2 separate regions of the Homo sapiens genome follow, and region 1 is linked to region 2. The links come from fine-mapping of genetic effects on gene expression. A gene starts in region 2. The other region holds a variant in brackets. All regions are shown on one strand. Distances are between the middles of the regions.

Region 1 (4,383 bases), 88 kb after region 2:
CATATAAAATATAACAAATGTCTGGAATAAGTAAATATTTATATTTATATATTAAACACATGTAAAGAACTTCTAAAAATTGGTTAAACCATTAAAACCTCCATGAGGGAAAATAGCAAAGGATATGAACAGGCAATTCCAGAATAAAATAAGTGAATGTATAAAAAATACACTCAGTTAAAACAATAGTAAGACATTTCTTGCTTAGCCAATTGCCAATGTTGCAATGATTTATAGAACCCACCAAGGGTAAGGAATTGGCGGCCTAGCACCCTGCTTGTGGGAGCACAAGGGGCTCACCTGCTAGAGGGCAGTTTGGGAGGAATTATAGACATGAAAGAAACCTTTCTTTTACACCAGCCTTCCAGGGCTAGGAAAGTCTTCTGAAAATCCCAGTACAAAGAAATCTGCACAAAGATAAGCCTCCATGTATTACTAACTGTAATAACTTTGGTCCTGGTGCAGGAAGAACCAAGAAGATCAATGGAGTGGAACTGAAGCAATAAAGAGACTCAAATGTGTTTGGGAATTGAGCACATGGTAATGGTGTAGTTTCATTGGAGAGAATAGAGTTACCTGTGTAATAGAAAACCAAGTCAAAAGCAAGAAAAATTAATGGTGAAGATAATTTTGTGGTTACAAAAAAAAAAAAAAAGGGAAGTGGGACTGACTGCATGGGACTGGAGGGAGAGAGGTGGGTTAGAGCAAGTTTGGTTTTTTTCCCTTTCCCTTGGTCAGCAAACTACCCTCAAGCCAAACCCAGCCTGCAATCTATTTTTCTACCGCCCAGTGAGCTAAGAACATTTTTTACACTTTTTACTGGTTGAAAAAATTAAAAGAATAATATTTCATGACATGTGGAAATTAGATGAAATTTGAATGTTGGTGTCTGAGTCAAGTCCCATTGGCACACACGTCCCATTGGCACACAGCGCCTCCCTCTCGTTATGTGTCACCTTTACTGGCTTTGGCACCAAAAGGGCAGACGTGGGTACTTCCGACAAAACTGAAAAGATTCCATACGTGGCCCTTGCAGAGAAAGCTTGCAGACCCCTGCTTTAGAGAGAGGAGGTATGAGAGTTTAGGCTTTGGTGTGGGTGGCTGGGGAGGTCCCCTGGTTCAGGAAATGGTGATTCCAAGGGCGGTTGCTGTCTGGGTTCTGGTGCTGTCCTCCTCCTCTGTCCACCCCATATCTAATGCATTCTGAGTGCTCGCTGGGCAGTCAGTGCAGGGCGGGACAACAGTCACGTGTTGCTTCCCAAGACATACAGTCACGGGCCCCTTAACAACAAGGATGCATTCTGGGAAATGGTGATTAGGTGGCTCTTGGAAGGTGCACCTCATTTACCCCTAGGCTGGGTGGCATAGCCCATCGCTCCCACGAGTGATGTCTGTGCTACGACAGTACCACGGCTATGACATCCCTAGGCCATAGGAATTCTTCAGCTCCATCATAGTCATGGGACCACTGTCATGCACGTGTCCCTCCTTGCCTGGAAGGTTGCTGTGCAGTGCATGACGGCACTTCCATGTCAGCGGGTGCCTCGCTGGCCCATCTCCTGCCCCTGCTCACTCTGTCTGCCACCTTCCAGCAGCTCCCCGCCCTAAAGCCATCCTGATGCTGCTTTTCCGCCATTTCTTCCTCTGTGCATGTTACCCCAAACTCCACAGGGGCTGCTGCTTGCTTGACATGCATTCTGGAACCTTCCGGGATCCTGTCCCAGTGCCCCCGAGCAGAAGCGGCAAGCAAGGGCCAACTCAGCCCAGGGCTGCCTCTGTCCA[AG/G]GCCCTCTGTCCAGGTCGACAGGCATCTTCCCCTCCCCAGGGGGAGTGCAGGCTCCAGATGAGTTTCTGTCTCCCCAGCTGAGAACCTTTGTCTTGGTTCGGGTTGCTGTAACACAATACCATATGCCAGGCTGCTCAACGAACATTGATTTCTCACAGTTTTGCAGGCTGGAAGTCTAGATCAGGGTGCAGCACACTGGAGTTCTTGGTAAGGATCCTCTTCCTGATTTCTGCCCAGCTGCCTTCTCACTGTATCCCCACGAGAGAGGGAGAGGAACCAGCTCTCAGTCTCAGTTCTGTCTCCCTGTGAATCTGAGAGTGCGCTGAGGCCAGGAACCTTTGTCCCCAGGCGCAGCTACTCCAGAGGCTGAGGTGGGAGGACTGCTTAGGTCCAGGAGGTTGATGCTGCAGGGAGCTGTGACTGCACTCCAGCGGCGGAGACAGAGCAAGACCCTGTCTCAAAAGGAAGGAAAGAAGGAGAAGAAAGAAAAGGAAGTTTTCATGCCCGACGCGGTAGCATAAGGGGGCATGGGAGACCGGACGAGAGGGTGTGGCAGCGACCGCAGGGAGAGGAGACGGCGGACGCGGAACTGTGCGGGGTTGGCAGTGGGCTTGGGGGTGGCACAGCGGGGACGCGCTGGCACCGGTTTCTGAGAGGGGACATTCGGGAGAAGCTGCCTGGGGAATGGGAGGCCACGAGTTCGGGCGTGGAGACGGAGCTTCAGGGCCTGGAGAAAGGGGAGTGGAAATGACGGAGGAAGTATCCGTATCGCATCCTCGGTTTGCCCGAGAGATGTCTGTGCCGCCACGTTTACCGCAGCGCTGTTCACAATAGCCCAGATCTGCGAGCAAAGGCAGCGGCCGTCGGTGCAGGAGTGGGCGGAGGCACCGAGGTGGATGCGCAGCAGAGCACCACTCAGCCGCAAGAACACGATAATCCCGGCCGGGCGCGGGGGCTCACGCCTGTAATCCCAGCACTTTGGGAGGCCGAGGCGGGCGGATCACGAGGTCAGGAGATCGAGACCAGCCTGACCAACATGGTGAAACCCCGTCTCTACTAAAAATACAAAAAATTAGGGCGCGGTGGCGGGCGCCTGTAGTCCCAGCTACTCGGGAGGCTGAGGCAGGAGAATGGCGTGAACCCGGGAGGCGGAGCTTGCAGTGAGCCGAGATCACCCCACTGCACTCTGGCCTGGATGACAGTGCGAGACTCCGTCTCAAAAAAAGAAAGAAAAGAAAAGAAAAGAAATACCTGAGGCTGGGTAATTGATAAGAAAAGAGGCTTAATTGGCTCATGGCTCTGCAGGCTGTGCAGGAAGCATACCGCCAGCTTCTGCTTCTGGCGAGGCTTCAGGAAGCTTCCAATCACGGCAGAAGGCAAAGAGGGAGCAGGCACATCACATGGCGAAGGTGGGAGCAAGAAGGCGGGGGGTGCCACACACTTTTTAAAACCTTATCAGGGGAGAACTCATAATAGGGAGGACAGCACCAAGGCCGTGGTGCTAAACCATTCATGAGAAATCCATCCTCATGATCCAATAACCTCCCACCAGGCCCCACCTCCAATATTGGGAATTACATTTCAACGTAAATTTTGACGAGGACATAAATACAAACTATATTACTACCCTTAAACAATTGGAAATTGCTTTGTTTTTGAGAAATAAAAGAATGCTGAATTCTGTTCTGTTGCTTTGGTTGTACACTTTAGTGAAAATTGAAAGGTTATGTTAATTTCTGAAGAATTATAATGATAAAAAACGGTGCAGACACAACCTGCACTTTGCAAGCATTGCAGACTTAAGTTTTTTGGGGGAAACTATACATAATTAAATAGTTTCCCAGTGAGCTCAGCCAGCCCATTCAGGGCAGTGCCCAGACATATGCTTGTGGCAAACTCTAGCCAAGCAACTTACCTACAGGAGAAAAAAAGACTCACTGTTTCAAGAGGAGCTGTGGTGCTTCTCTCCTTTCTCCTCTTTTTCTTGTATAAACCCTACATTCACCTGTATTCAACAAAATCAGCCAACTAATTGGTTTCTGTGTGTGTATTCAAGAAAATCAGCCAACTAATTGGTTTCTATGTGTGTATTCGAGAAAATCAGCCGACTAATTGGTTTCTATGTGTGTGTATTCGAGAAAATCAGCCAACTAATTGGTTTCTGTGTGTTTGTGTTCAAGTGAACGTCCACATTCACTCAGCTGTGCTGTGTCTCTGAGCTACTCTCTGACTCTGCAACCCTCCCCTTTTAAATGGTTGCACTGGACTCTGTATTCTTGTGCGCTCATACCCATTACCAAGCTCAAAGGGACCCACGGAAGAAGCTCAGAACTCTTATGAGAAATAAAATACCGCCGTGTGTCGTGACTAATTATGATGGCAGAAAAGCATCAAGCCGGTTTCCGTAGTGTAGTGGTTATCACGTTCGCCTCACACGCGAAAGGTCCCCGGTTCGAAACCGGGCGGAAACAGTTCCTTCTACTTTTCACTTAACTGCTTCAAATTTATTACACCGAAGACTAGCCTAGAACATCCCACCAATATCTCCACCCACTTAAGGAGAAAAGGCTATCAAGGGTATTTATACCGTTGCCTTTCC
Region 2 (4,383 bases):
CAAGGCCTTCTCAGCCCATGCCCTGGAGGGCATTCCCCTGGCCAGCCTCAGCCCCTTGTCTACTTGTTCTCCAGCTTCTGGGTAGCTGGGCTTCTGGAAGGGTGGCAGTGGGCTACTCCCTGCTCAGCGCTCCCCTGGGAAGGGGGTGAGGAGATGAAAATGAAACTATGAGCTGTCTTTGGAGTTGGCTTGGCCCATTTTCTACTCCCTAGATCTGAGTGCAGGAGCGTAAGTGTGATCAGGGTTTCTGCCAGAGTGAATGAGCATGCATGTTTCTGTGTGGGAGGAGTGTGTATTTGTATCTCACCTTTCTTGGGGGTGTGTGTGTGTATTTTGGAGAGGGCATTTATGAGCATGTGCATAAGGTTCAGGTGTTGCAAACAGACCCAAGTCAGTCTGGTCATACCCTATTGTTGATTTGTTGTTAAATACTGACCACCTCATATTTAGACAAGGGCCACAGGTTTCTTCTCTCACTACCTGGCTACCAGGCTAGATGAACAGAATACCAGACTCGGACCTAATTCTGTCCCACACAAGTTATTTAGACAGAGGTGCTGGCAAACAGGGGCAATGATAGCTGAATAGCCCTGTGTCATGGAGCTTCAGTGCTCTGTCTCTGAGGTGCTTCAAGCTCACCTGGCATATAGGGTTCTCGTGGGGCAGCCACAACACTATCCCAGAGGCAGGCCCAGTTGACACAGCACCAGACAATCAGAATACCGCATCCTCCAGGCTGAGGACAGGGTCATTTCAAAGTCCTGCCTACAGAAGCATTCCAGAGAGTGAATCCTATGTCCTGCTCATACATGGAGAGCAGCTCTAAAACCGGGTAGCCAATTCAGGCATTTGAATACCACTGATTTCCACAAGGAAAACCGATCTCTAACATTAATTTCCTAACTGAATCACCTATTGTTACCGTTAAGCCTTAATGTTATCTGGCTTGTATGGCTTTTTGATTAAGTATCATAATTCCCTTTGTACCATCCAACAAATGTGCTGGGCATCACAACACACATTACAGGTCCCAGAAAGTACCATGTCTGGTGAAGGTGTCACATGAGGGTCAGGTCTGGGGACTGGGAGTAGCTGTCCGCATGTTTATTTTCCGTTTTTGTGTCCATGAGTGCAATCGTGTGTCTATCAGAGTGTGTGTGTTTGCAGAGTGACTACATATATAGCTATGTATCTTAAGAAATGTAACAACAGTTACTGTAACAATTGCATAGAGAAGGGAACAGATGTTCTTTCTTGCTAACCAGGGCAGTACAGTAACTTGGATGTCAGGATGCTGGTGTCCTCGAGGGCATGTGTGTGCATTTCCCTCTCCTAGACTCTGGGCATCATAAACTCTAGGGACCTCTGGGTCTGTGAGAACAACTGGCCTAACTTGGGCCCTTCTTATTCAACCCATCAGTCCTAGCTGCTGACCCATAAGCGCAGGCCTCTGCCGCCAGACCCTCACAGGGACCCTCAGCATCCAGAATGGGGGGCACCTAGAGGCCCACCTCTGGCCTGGCCGCCCAGTGACCCAAGTCACCCGGCATTGCAGGGAGCACAGGGCAGGCTAGGCCACCAGACCAAGGTCCACCTCCTACACCCACCACTTTCTGTCCTTTGCCAGGCTGAGCCCTCATCCTTTTCCCCTCTCCTCCGGCCCGTGGGCCCTTTAAGGGCCCTGACAGAACATGTCAGGGTGTACCCTAAAAGCTGCCTTTTCCTACTTCATCCAAATGTGAGACGGGGCTGGCACCCACCCGCAACCTCGCCTGGACCCTTCCCACCCCAGCGCCTCCAAACACCTGGCCCTCCTGATTCCCCGCCTCCCCCGCCACACTCCCGCTGGGCCTCCACCTCCTGATGACCCCACTGTTCCCCCACCGCCCAGCTCGCCCCAGGTCCCGCCCTAACCTCTCGGATCTGGACTCCCTGCAGGACGGGCGCACTGACACCCTTCCCTGACCTTTCCATAGCCTTGACCTGGATCCCCGCTTCCTCACGCACAGCAAGACGCAAAACGTGCTCCCCAATCCTGCGCACGCCCTTCCCTGGCCCCCGCCCCGCCCAAGGCCCGGGGCGGTCCTCACAGCTCGGAGCTCGGCGGTGCCGCCCCGCCCCGACAGCTCCCGCCCGCGCGCGCGCCCAACGACGGCACTGTCTTCGCGGAGCCCTCTGCCGGGACTAACGGCCGTTCCGTGCCACGGACGCACGGGCAAGATGGCTGCGGCCGTGGGAGGAGCTTGGGTCCAGCAGCCACAGAACTCGGCCGAGGGTTCAGCGGACTGCGGCTGCGCGGCGCCGGCGACAGCGTCAACTGCTTTTGTGTCAAAAGGAAACCAACAGCCGGCTCCATAGCTCAGGGGTTAGAGCACTGGTCTTGTAAACCAGGGTCGCGAGTTCAAATCTCGCTGGGGCCTGCTTCCGTCTTTTCCTATTCTTTCCTTAAAGATAGAAAAGTGGAAGATAGGCAAGCCTACTTCCGCCTTCCTGGGAGGCCAGAGCCTGGCGGAGTCACTTTCTTTTTGCCTCTAAGATACCCACCGCGCAAGGCTACTTTCCTACCACTTCCTTATCTCTTGAAGAGTCAGACCCACTGCGGGCTTCCTTTTCCATCACGGGTTCCCTGGGCCCCGCGCGCCCTCTCCCCACGACCCCGCTCACTTCCTTCTGCGCGCTCCCCGGGAGCGTCTTTCCGCTTCTCTCCGGTCTTCCCACTCCAGCTAGGGACTCGCCCTCGTGTCTCCTTCCCTCTCTCCAGGGGGAGACGATGGCACTACCGCGCCCCTTCCCGCCATGCGTTTGTTTGCGGCGTTCCCCGACGCGCGCGCTGAGGCTCTGGTCTGCGGCTCTGCGCTTGGCGGCTGCGCGCCCTCGGCCTTCGGGTCCCCGCCGCCTCCGTGCTGCAAGGTCTGATTTCTTCCTGTGGAGTTAACACGGAAAAGCGCAGACGGCCACATTCATGACCCGGGAGTAACGGCTCTACCTGTCACATTCGCTTTCAGCCTAAAACAAAATTTTAGTTTATTTTAGACAAAATATATAACTAAGGTATGCTGGCCTTCTGACTGATTTATTCTTGCTGTTAACGGAAGTGTAGAAAGTGAGCCCAAGTCCTCAGTGAACAGTGGGGGCGCTGCCCAGGTGCAGGACTGGCCCCCTGGGGGTCTCGGGACGGCTCCCGCCTCCGTCTTCCCCGCACCGCGCACTTTGGAGGCCTGGGCACAGGTGGAGGCGGCGCTGGGTCCCGCCGTACACTCCCCTGTCGCAGGCGCCCTCTCTCCAGCCGGAGGGAACCTCAAAAAAGCTCTGAGCGAGTCCCCGTCCCAGGTGGGGCCGCGGCTTATACCGGGACCACTCCAGGGTAGCTCAAGGTTCGAAAACGGAATCCCTGTCCGGTGAACCAGAGAAGAGAAAATCGCTCGGGGCCACCTGGGTAGAGACCGGAGGGGTGACTGCCTTGACTGGGAGGCGTGGAGGAGCGAGCGGGGTCTGCGGCTCCGGCCGGGAGGTATGCGCTTCCCTCTCTCACCCATGCCTGCTCCGGTCCAAAGAGCCGAGACCGTGGGTCAAGACCGGGATGGATTCGCTCGGGAGAGGCCAGGAGCCTGCCAGCACGTTCGGGCACTAGCGCTCCCGGGGCTCCTCGGACTCGTGGACCCCGAAACGCCTGCCCCACAGGAAGATCACCCCACTGTAGAAGTCGGGTCACGGGGACCAGTGGCGAGCTACCTGACGGCTTAACTACAGATACCCTCCCGACGAAAGCCGTGGACTCCCAGGGTGCGTGCGTCTGCTTGTGTGTGGGGGTGTTGGCAGGCGGTCCCCATAATCATCGAAGAGACAGGTGGATGAACCTCAGGCCTCGCACTCGGGGGCTCTCAGAGTCTGGGCGTTACAGCCGCTCCCGTACACTCACGGGTCACCTGGCTGAATCAGGTGGGATCTGGGTGAGGTGCCGGGAGGTCTCCCAGGCTGGCGCTCCTGTCCAGCTGCTGGGGGAGGCGTGGGTGCGAGGCTTGGGACAAGGGAGAGCTATGCCGGGTGGGGAGGACCCTTGGGGCGGGTCCGTTCACCTGAAATGTTCACTGCTGGAAGAGCCGAAAGCCAGCCACGGCACCCAGGGGAGTCCAGCGTGGAGAGGCAGAGAGGAGGGGCGAGGACAGTGGCGGTCGCAGACGGCGGAGCAAGATCGCCGAGCGTGCGAATGGAAAAATGAGCATTGTTTCCTCGGAGTAGCTTAACCACCATCCCACGCTGTTTTACAGCAGTGTAGGAAATGTCTCTGCTGGTGACACAAAAATAAACCTGTGCATCAGCTCTGAGTAGATTATCGCGAATTTTACAGCAGGAAACCGCATCACTATTTTTACTACTAAATAA

Alleles and levels. Positions count from the first base shown, and alleles are read on the strand shown. Sizes are in standard deviations (SD) of each study's normalised expression.
In carriers of allele AG in region 1, the expression in thyroid of the gene that starts at base 2,199 in region 2 tends to be lower than with G alone (moderate effect, 0.42 SD a copy in GTEx).

Evidence for each region. PIP is the estimated chance that this variant, and not a neighbour inherited with it, causes the effect.
Region 1: its variant is fine-mapped to the expression of LINC01962 in thyroid (GTEx, PIP 0.94).

The regions. Positions count from the first base shown.
Region 1 is chr5:181,102,125-181,106,507 of GRCh38, reverse strand. It overlaps TRV-CAC1-3 (tRNA-Val (anticodon CAC) 1-3), which reads left to right and starts at 4,183; the gene lies at 4,183-4,255. RefSeq lists enhancers at 1,146-1,645, 1,646-2,147. The variant AG/G (reference allele first, on the strand shown) is at 1,783.
Region 2 is chr5:181,189,724-181,194,106 of GRCh38, reverse strand. It overlaps LINC01962 (long intergenic non-protein coding RNA 1962), which reads left to right and starts at 2,199. Exons shown (of 2, transcript NR_108031.1): 1 at 2,199-2,365; 2 at 2,762-3,061. TRT-TGT6-1 (tRNA-Thr (anticodon TGT) 6-1) reads left to right here and starts at 2,349; the gene lies at 2,349-2,420. TRIM7-AS2 (TRIM7 antisense RNA 2) reads right to left here and starts at 2,217. Exons shown (of 2, transcript NR_183285.1): 1 at 1,967-2,217. TRIM7 (tripartite motif containing 7) reads left to right here. Exons shown (of 7, transcript NM_203293.3): 7 at 1-183. RefSeq lists silencers at 1,871-2,210, 2,391-2,470, 3,091-3,220 and an enhancer at 2,231-2,410.